3 separate regions of the Homo sapiens genome follow, and all the other regions are reported to be linked to region 3. Evidence: microRNA targets listed by miRTarBase, many of them from high-throughput screens and not tested one by one. Region 3 holds a microRNA gene; each other region holds the end of a gene's coding sequence.

Region 1 (3,000 bases), not on the chromosome of region 3:
CTGATGGATCTTTACCTGAAGATGAAACCAGTATGGCGATCATCATGCCCTGCTAAAGAGTGCCCAGAATCCCTCTGCCAGTACAGTTTCAATTCACAGCGTTTTGCTGAGCTCCTTTCTACGAAGTTCAAGTATAGGTATGAGGGAAAAATCACCAATTATTTTCACAAAACCCTGGCCCATGTTCCTGAAATTATTGAGAGGGATGGCTCCATTGGGGCATGGGCAAGTGAGGGAAATGAGTCTGGTAACAAACTGTTTAGGCGCTTCCGGAAAATGAATGCCAGGCAGTCCAAATGCTATGAGATGGAAGATGTCCTGAAACACCACTGGTTGTACACCTCCAAATACCTCCAGAAGTTTATGAATGCTCATAATGCATTAAAAACCTCTGGGTTTACCATGAACCCTCAGGCAAGCTTAGGGGACCCATTAGGCATAGAGGACTCTCTGGAAAGCCAAGATTCAATGGAATTTTAAGTAGGGCAACCACTTATGAGTTGGTTTTTGCAATTGAGTTTCCCTCTGGGTTGCATTGAGGGCTTCTCCTAGCACCCTTTACTGCTGTGTATGGGGCTTCACCATCCAAGAGGTGGTAGGTTGGAGTAAGATGCTACAGATGCTCTCAAGTCAGGAATAGAAACTGATGAGCTGATTGCTTGAGGCTTTTAGTGAGTTCCGAAAAGCAACAGGAAAAATCAGTTATCTGAAAGCTCAGTAACTCAGAACAGGAGTAACTGCAGGGGACCAGAGATGAGCAAAGATCTGTGTGTGTTGGGGAGCTGTCATGTAAATCAAAGCCAAGGTTGTCAAAGAACAGCCAGTGAGGCCAGGAAAGAAATTGGTCTTGTGGTTTTCATTTTTTTCCCCCTTGATTGATTATATTTTGTATTGAGATATGATAAGTGCCTTCTATTTCATTTTTGAATAATTCTTCATTTTTATAATTTTACATATCTTGGCTTGCTATATAAGATTCAAAAGAGCTTTTTAAATTTTTCTAATAATATCTTACATTTGTACAGCATGATGACCTTTACAAAGTGCTCTCAATGCATTTACCCATTCGTTATATAAATATGTTACATCAGGACAACTTTGAGAAAATCAGTCCTTTTTTATGTTTAAATTATGTATCTATTGTAACCTTCAGAGTTTAGGAGGTCATCTGCTGTCATGGATTTTTCAATAATGAATTTAGAATACACCTGTTAGCTACAGTTAGTTATTAAATCTTCTGATAATATATGTTTACTTAGCTATCAGAAGCCAAGTATGATTCTTTATTTTTACTTTTTCATTTCAAGAAATTTAGAGTTTCCAAATTTAGAGCTTCTGCATACAGTCTTAAAGCCACAGAGGCTTGTAAAAATATAGGTTAGCTTGATGTCTAAAAATATATTTCATGTCTTACTGAAACATTTTGCCAGACTTTCTCCAAATGAAACCTGAATCAATTTTTCTAAATCTAGGTTTCATAGAGTCCTCTCCTCTGCAATGTGTTATTCTTTCTATAATGATCAGTTTACTTTCAGTGGATTCAGAATTGTGTAGCAGGATAACCTTGTATTTTTCCATCCGCTAAGTTTAGATGGAGTCCAAACGCAGTACAGCAGAAGAGTTAACATTTACACAGTGCTTTTTACCACTGTGGAATGTTTTCACACTCATTTTTCCTTACAACAATTCTGAGGAGTAGGTGTTGTTATTATCTCCATTTGATGGGGGTTTAAATGATTTGCTCAAAGTCATTTAGGGGTAATAAATACTTGGCTTGGAAATTTAACACAGTCCTTTTGTCTCCAAAGCCCTTCTTCTTTCCACCACAAATTAATCACTATGTTTATAAGGTAGTATCAGAATTTTTTTAGGATTCACAACTAATCACTATAGCACATGACCTTGGGATTACATTTTTATGGGGCAGGGGTAAGCAAGTTTTTAAATCATTTGTGTGCTCTGGCTCTTTTGATAGAAGAAAGCAACACAAAAGCTCCAAAGGGCCCCCTAACCCTCTTGTGGCTCCAGTTATTTGGAAACTATGATCTGCATCCTTAGGAATCTGGGATTTGCCAGTTGCTGGCAATGTAGAGCAGGCATGGAATTTTATATGCTAGTGAGTCATAATGATATGTTAGTGTTAATTAGTTTTTTCTTCCTTTGATTTTATTGGCCATAATTGCTACTCTTCATACACAGTATATCAAAGAGCTTGATAATTTAGTTGTCAAAAGTGCATCGGCGACATTATCTTTAATTGTATGTATTTGGTGCTTCTTCAGGGATTGAACTCAGTATCTTTCATTAAAAAACACAGCAGTTTTCCTTGCTTTTTATATGCAGAATATCAAAGTCATTTCTAATTTAGTTGTCAAAAACATATACATATTTTAACATTAGTTTTTTTGAAAACTCTTGGTTTTGTTTTTTTGGAAATGAGTGGGCCACTAAGCCACACTTTCCCTTCATCCTGCTTAATCCTTCCAGCATGTCTCTGCACTAATAAACAGCTAAATTCACATAATCATCCTATTTACTGAAGCATGGTCATGCTGGTTTATAGATTTTTTACCCATTTCTACTCTTTTTCTCTATTGGTGGCACTGTAAATACTTTCCAGTATTAAATTATCCTTTTCTAACACTGTAGGAACTATTTTGAATGCATGTGACTAAGAGCATGATTTATAGCACAACCTTTCCAATAATCCCTTAATCAGATCACATTTTGATAAACCCTGGGAACATCTGGCTGCAGGAATTTCAATATGTAGAAACGCTGCCTATGGTTTTTTGCCCTTACTGTTGAGACTGCAATATCCTAGACCCTAGTTTTATACTAGAGTTTTATTTTTAGCAATGCCTATTGCAAGTGCAATTATATACTCCAGGGAAATTCACCACACTGAATCGAGCATTTGTGTGTGTATGTGTGAAGTATATACTGGGACTTCAGAAGTGCAATGTATTTTTCTCCTGTGAAACCTGAATCTACAAGTTT
Region 2 (3,000 bases), not on the chromosome of region 3:
GGGGGTAGTGGCTTCTGCCTGTAATCCCAGCACTTTGGGAAGCTGAGGTGGGAGCAGCATCACTTGAGCCCTGGAGTTTTGAGACCAGCCTAGACAACATGGTGAGACCTTGTCTCTACAAAAAATACAAAAAATTAGTGGGGCGTGGTGGCACATGCCCGTAGAACCAGCGACTCGGGAGGCTGAGACAGGAGGAACCACCTGAATTCGGGGAGTTCAAAGTTGCAGTGAGCAGTGATTGAATCACTGCACTCCAGCCTGGGCAAGAGCAAGACCCAGTCTAAAAAAAAACCACCACTGCTCCAGGGGTCCAGGGGTCAGGCACACTCAATGGTAGTAATTGCTGCCACTATTTTTTTTTTTTTTTGAGACAGGGTTTTGCTTTATCACCGAGGCTGGAGTACAGTGGTGTGGTCATGGGTCACTGCAACCTCCATCTCCTGGGCTTAAGCGATCCTCCCACCTCAGCCTGCCACCTAGCTGGGATCATAGGTGTGCACCACTGCGCCCAGCTAATTTTTATTTTTTGTAGAGATGGGGGTCTCACTATGTTGCCCAGGCTGGTCTCAGACTCCTGGGCTCAAGCAGTCCTCCCACCTCGGCCTTCCAAAGTGCTGGGCTTACGGTGTGAGCCAGCGCACCCAGCCTTGCTGCCACTGGTGTAGGTATTTACTATGTGCCAGGCACTGCTCTATCTTCCCTTGCTGAATCCCCAAAGTAGCCTCAAGGACACAGGTGCTATTATTTCCCATTTTACAAATGAGAAAACTGAGAACACAGATAGTAAATAATTTCCCCAAAGTCTAACAGCTAGTAAGCAAGGAGGGCTGGATTTGAAACCAAACTCCACCACTCACAGCTTTTTGGAAGGTAAGCGGAAAGGGGCTGAGTGGATTCCCTTCTGATCATTACTGTTTGAAACATCGTGGGCCCTTTGACACTTAGCCTCTGACCTCTTGCTGTTCTCTCTCCATTCCAGCAGTGTCCATCCCTCAGCCTCAGAGCCAGGTGAAAAGATCCCCCTCGAACAGTGCCTTTGACAAGCCTTAAAGAAAAATCCCGTCACGTGCGGCTACTCGGGCTTCTCTTAAATGTACAGGGAGGGCAGGAGGGGTGCGTGGGGGCTGATCTAGCGAAGTACTCACATCTAGGCAGAGTTTAAAAAGTTGGTAGCAGGGCACGGTGGCTCCTGCCTATAATCCCAGCACCTTGGGAGGTCGAGGCACGAGGATTGCTTGAGTCCAGGTGTTTGACATCAGCCTGGGCATCATAGCAAGACCACATCTCTAAACAAAATTTTAAAATACGGTGGCTCACGCCTGTAATCCCAGCACTTTGGGAGGCCGAGGTGGGCGGATCACAAGGTCAGGAGATCAAGACCATCCTGACCAACATGGTGAAACCCCGTCTCTACTAAAAATACAAAAAAATAAGCCAGGAGTGGTGGCGGGCACCTGTAGTCCCAGCTACTCTGGAGGCTGAGGTGGGAGAATGGTGTGAACCCGGGAGGTGGAGCTTGCAATGAGCCAAGACCACGCCACTGCACTCCAGCCTGGGTGACAGAGCGAGACTCTGTCTCAAAAAAAAGAAAAATAAATTAAAAGTTGGTGATTTAATGAAAATTGTCTCCTTCACTGACATTAGCCGAGAGGTCAGAGGTCACACTGTAGACACCAGCTGTCGAGGCACAGGCGCTGCTCGCTCCTCTTAGGCAACTCTTAGGACTTTAACACTCCAGGGAAATCATCATGAAGTCAAACCGCTGCAGGGAACAGTCACACTGGCCCCAGGCCACACAACAATATCACTGGCAGGTTTTATCTTCTCTGAGTAAGTAAGATAAAGTGAAAAGCCTAGTTTAAGGAGCCGGCTTAGCTTGTTCAAAATCCCTGGGCCTGGCTTAGAGCAAGTAGAGACAGGTGTGGGAAAGGAAATAAATCAGACCAAGCTGAGCCCATCATTAAAGTTTAATTCTCTAGAAAGTTTAGTATGAAGTATTTGACATACAAAAAGCCATAAAGAATGTCACGCACAGCTTGCCAGGAGCAAAAAAAAAAAAAAAAAAAAAAAAGACGAAAGAAAAAGCACGTTACAGTGAACGTCCATGTACCCATTGCCCAATTGGAGAAAGAAAACATGCCCAGTGTATTAAAGCCCCTGGTGTGTCCTCCCTGCCTGCCTCCTCTGAGTGAAGCATAATCCTAAATGTGGTTTCTTGTGTTATTCTAGTCTTTTTTTTTAAAGAAAAATCTTTCTGCCAATGGGGATAATGGCTCCATGTGGCCGAGGTGAGACTAAGAATCTGGAGAAAGAGCATCAGTCTGATGTAGCTTTTATTGAGTAAAGGAAAAAGGGAATTCAGCCGCATGATACAGAGGTTCCAGTTGATCAGAGTGCGCAAACACCCTTCCTGTCTGCGTGATGGGAACCGCACCAGCACACGGGGCACGCGGAAGCCACTGCCGCAAGGAGATGGTTCCCACTCTCACGCACATGAGCAGCTCCTGGTCAGTCCCAAGAGGCAAGGGCAGAGGGCATGGTGGCTCTCACAGAGCTACTTTACAAATAAACTGTGTGTCTTCCTCAGGAGTCTCTTACAACACTTTTAAAAAACTGAACAGAAAATAGGGCAAAGGGCCAGGTGGCAGTGCCATGAGGCACATGGAATGTCCTGGTCTGTGGAATCGTGGAGGGTGACAGGAGCAGCATGATCAGGCATTGTATGACGAGGATGACACGGTGCCACCATGGCCTGTCCAGTTGGTGTGGATAAACTGCCCTGGTTTGGCCAAGAGTTCATAGGTGTGAGCCCCGAAGTAATCCCGCTGAGCCTAGGAAACGAGAGAGTAGGTTGGTCAGGACAGTCCATGGCGCACGCCCCCGAGGGGCCAGCCAGGTTAATCCCTGCTCCACAGGCTTACCTGGATGAGGCTGGCTGGAAGCATCTCATGTCTGTACCCGTCATAGAAGGAGAGGGCAGTGGTAAAACAGGGCATGGGA
Region 3 (3,149 bases):
CCAGTATCGGCACGTGCCAAACTCATTTGTGACTGGAGATGTGTTAATAAACTTCTTTATTGTATTAGCTTTTACCTCATCAGAAATTTATGTCCATAAAAGCAACAGAATTGGAGGGAAAATACAATAGCAAGGAAAGAATCAAATGAGAGTGTGGTTATGAAGGAGAAAGAAAGGAGGAAGTATCTGTATGGTTATCTTTCCTGACATTCCTTTGTAAGCATATTTTTAAATGTTGCCATTGTGAAAAAATAACTGCAAATGTATTTCTAATCATCCTGCTCATGCTCCCTTATCCCCATACAAAATAACCACAGCTATACTCTTTGGGAAAAAAAAATGACTGAGGCAATTAGAAAAGGCTGGAGAAAAAAAGTAAAAAACATCTATGAGGGTCAGGTTTGGTAGCTCAGGTCTGTAATACTAGTACTTTGGGAGGCCAAGGTGGGAGAGGATCACTTGAGGCCAGGAGCTTGAGACTAGCCTGGGAAACATAACAAGACCTCATTCCCTGCAAAATTTTTTTAAAAGTTAAAAAATTATATATAAGTTATTATACAAAATATATGAAATATAATTATATATAAAATTATATAATACTTCATATAGAAAATATCAAATTACATATAAAAAGTGACATGGTATGGTAAAATAGTTAACTGACAGCTCATCATCTTATTTATCACAGTTATCTTTCTTCACATTTTATAATAATTTTGCATTCACAAACTAACTTTTTATACCCTATCTCATCTAGTATCTTTCAGAGGTATGTCAGCCTCATGACACTATTGCTGTTTTACAAAACTATAAAGTAGAGAACAGAAAAGAAAAGTATATTGCCCCAGTTCACATAAATAAGTGTTTGAGAAAGCAAGCCCTTATTCCTTAGGCAAACTGGAGAGGATTTTATGTAAGGCAGAAATCAGGGCACGCTATTATCTTTGTATTTTTAATATTTCTTGTTTTGCATAATTGTTGATGGTTTATGGGATAAATATTATTTCCTAGATGCAACTTGAATAATAGTAACTGTGGGCACAAATTGAAGCAGTCTATTTCCAAAGGAAAAAGCACTTTTACTGTCAAAAGGAAAAAAAAATAGGAACTAAAACTAAACAGAGAAGTGGTTTTTAAAATAACTAAATGGCTAAGATAGTAAAGTATACTTTTATCACAACTACCAGCTGGTCTAAGACACTACTGTGTCTTAACTGGCCAACTTCACTGGCCTAATAACTGTCCTCTCTTCCTCCAGTGGCCTTCCTGATAGGTTTTCTTGACCTATCTCTCACCTACATAAAATCTGATGGCTTTGTCTTGCACTTAGTCTAGAATTCAAAGCCCTTATTCAAAGCCCTGACTGACACTACAATATGTAATCAGTCTCCTACCTATATTTCAACCCCATCTCAGACCTCAGCCATCTAACTTACCACCCTGCAACTCTACAGTCCCCCTGGCCTTTTGGTTCCTCCAGCAAGCCAAACTGTCCCTATTTTTGGGCCTTTGCATTAGCTGTTCCTAATCCGTGAACCACACTTCCTTGTGATCTGCAAATAGTGGTACCTTCTTGTCATTCAAATCTCAAACTAAATGGTACCAACCTTCAAAGTCTTACCTGGATCACAAAGTCTAAAGTAGCCTCCCCTCAACCATTCTCTATCACATTACATTTTAATCTCTTCAAAAACTATATTCCTATCCGGTATTTTTCTTGTGTTCTTTTTTTTCTTGGCTGCCAGCCTCTACAGAATATGTTTCATGAGATCTGGGGCCAGACCTTGTATGATCATTATTGAGTCTCCAGTGCCATTAATTGTTTTTGATAATGTATTCCATTAATATTTGTTCATATAGAGAGATATATGTGTATTTTATACGTATATATATATATATATATATATATATATCTCACAATGACTATATATCAAATATAATTTGATGTTGCTATTAGGTTGGTACAAAAGTAATTACAGTTTTTCCCATTACTTACAATGGAAAAAAACATGATTACTTTTGCAGCAACCTAATAGTAAGTATGTTGGTAGATAGGATTAATAATTGCTAAGTGTAAATGTTCATAGATTTTAGTGATAAGCTTATCTGTATTTACAAGAAGTTTTTAACTTTTGTTATATCAACTTAGAAATTATAGCATAGCTTTGGATATACTTAATATGACTAGACAAATGTTAATTATCATTTCTCTAATCGCTAAACCAAGGCTTAGGCAGGAAATAATGGCTTCCGACTGGATCTATCCAAACCCTGTCTTAGGTAGAGAGAGAAAAGAAGTATCGATGAATCCATTTTTGTTTACTAGTAATCTTCTACTCTGAAGTAATCATATATTTAGAAAAAAAATAGGTAATGCTCCAAGTTGAAGCTAATCATTGGAGATAATCCATTCTCATGACCATGATAATGGAAACTGAACAGGTTATAATTTATTTGAAGCATTAAGTAAAACCTAGATTAGTTTTTTAAAAATAATGACAATACCCTCTTTTCATAATCACGTTTTTTGTTTCCTCTCACAAAATCTTTCAAAAATCAGGTTCAGCAAAGCTTACATAATGGCTTATCACATTAGAATTTAATAGGTTTTATGCACGAACACATACATAGTCAAAGTGGCAAGGAAGACTGTTATTTATAAACTCTCATATTATTTCTGAATTTGTGTTGCTCAAATAATGCTTTGTATATTCATTTTTAAGGAATTTTCCAGAAAAGTCTATGTGATAGAAGTGGTTACATGTACGTGTCTCATTTTAAAAACTCTGTGAGATGTTTTAGCAAAAGCTATACCAGCTAGAAGGCTCTCCTTGCCTTCTTAATAATTATTCTAAAAGCTGTAACACGTACAAAAGCTCTTGAATCTTCCCTAAGGACAAACTAATTTTTTATGTCAATCTCAGCTAGGTGGTAATACTGCCATTTTAGCATTTCCATTCTCTAGTGGGATGGGGATGAGGAAATTACACGCACAGAAGTCTAGGTGTCTGTCATCCTTCACTTAATGGCAGACATCCCTTGAAGGGGGGAATTTTTGAATGAACATCTTTTTAAATGTTAGAATCACAGATAAAAGACTTTTTTTATGTTTCAGATAAGCAAAGAAAAAGTTGCAATTTTAATTCCAG

The links. Region 3 holds the annotated microRNA hsa-miR-548g-3p (AAAACUGUAAUUACUUUUGUAC, at 1,962-1,983, opposite strand). A microRNA usually pairs through its seed, bases 2 to 8, with sites in the 3' UTR of a target mRNA and lowers its output. Matches are read on the target gene's strand: a 7mer-m8 pairs with bases 2 to 8, a 7mer-A1 pairs with bases 2 to 7 and ends in A, and an 8mer does both.
Region 1: miRTarBase lists RAG1 as a target of hsa-miR-548g-3p. Seed matches in the 3' UTR shown: 7mer-A1 at 1,522-1,528.
Region 2: miRTarBase lists PGD as a target of hsa-miR-548g-3p. Seed matches in the 3' UTR shown: 8mer at 2,567-2,574.

The regions. Positions count from the first base shown.
Region 1 is chr11:36,575,957-36,578,956 of GRCh38, forward strand. It overlaps RAG1 (recombination activating 1), which reads left to right. Exons shown (of 2, transcript NM_000448.3): 2 at 1-3,000. The coding sequence ends at 480. Among named protein-coding and RNA genes, the nearest start is that of RAG1, 9.4 kb to the left of the region's middle.
Region 2 is chr1:10,419,461-10,422,460 of GRCh38, reverse strand. PGD (phosphogluconate dehydrogenase) reads right to left here. Exons shown (of 13, transcript NM_002631.4): 12 at 2,922-3,000; 13 at 1,950-2,831. The coding sequence ends at 2,712. Among named protein-coding and RNA genes, the nearest start is that of CENPS, 9.5 kb to the left of the region's middle.
Region 3 is chrX:32,639,525-32,642,673 of GRCh38, forward strand. MIR548F5 (microRNA 548f-5) reads right to left here and starts at 2,035; the gene lies at 1,950-2,035. The region is part of intron 11 of DMD (dystrophin); the gene reads right to left.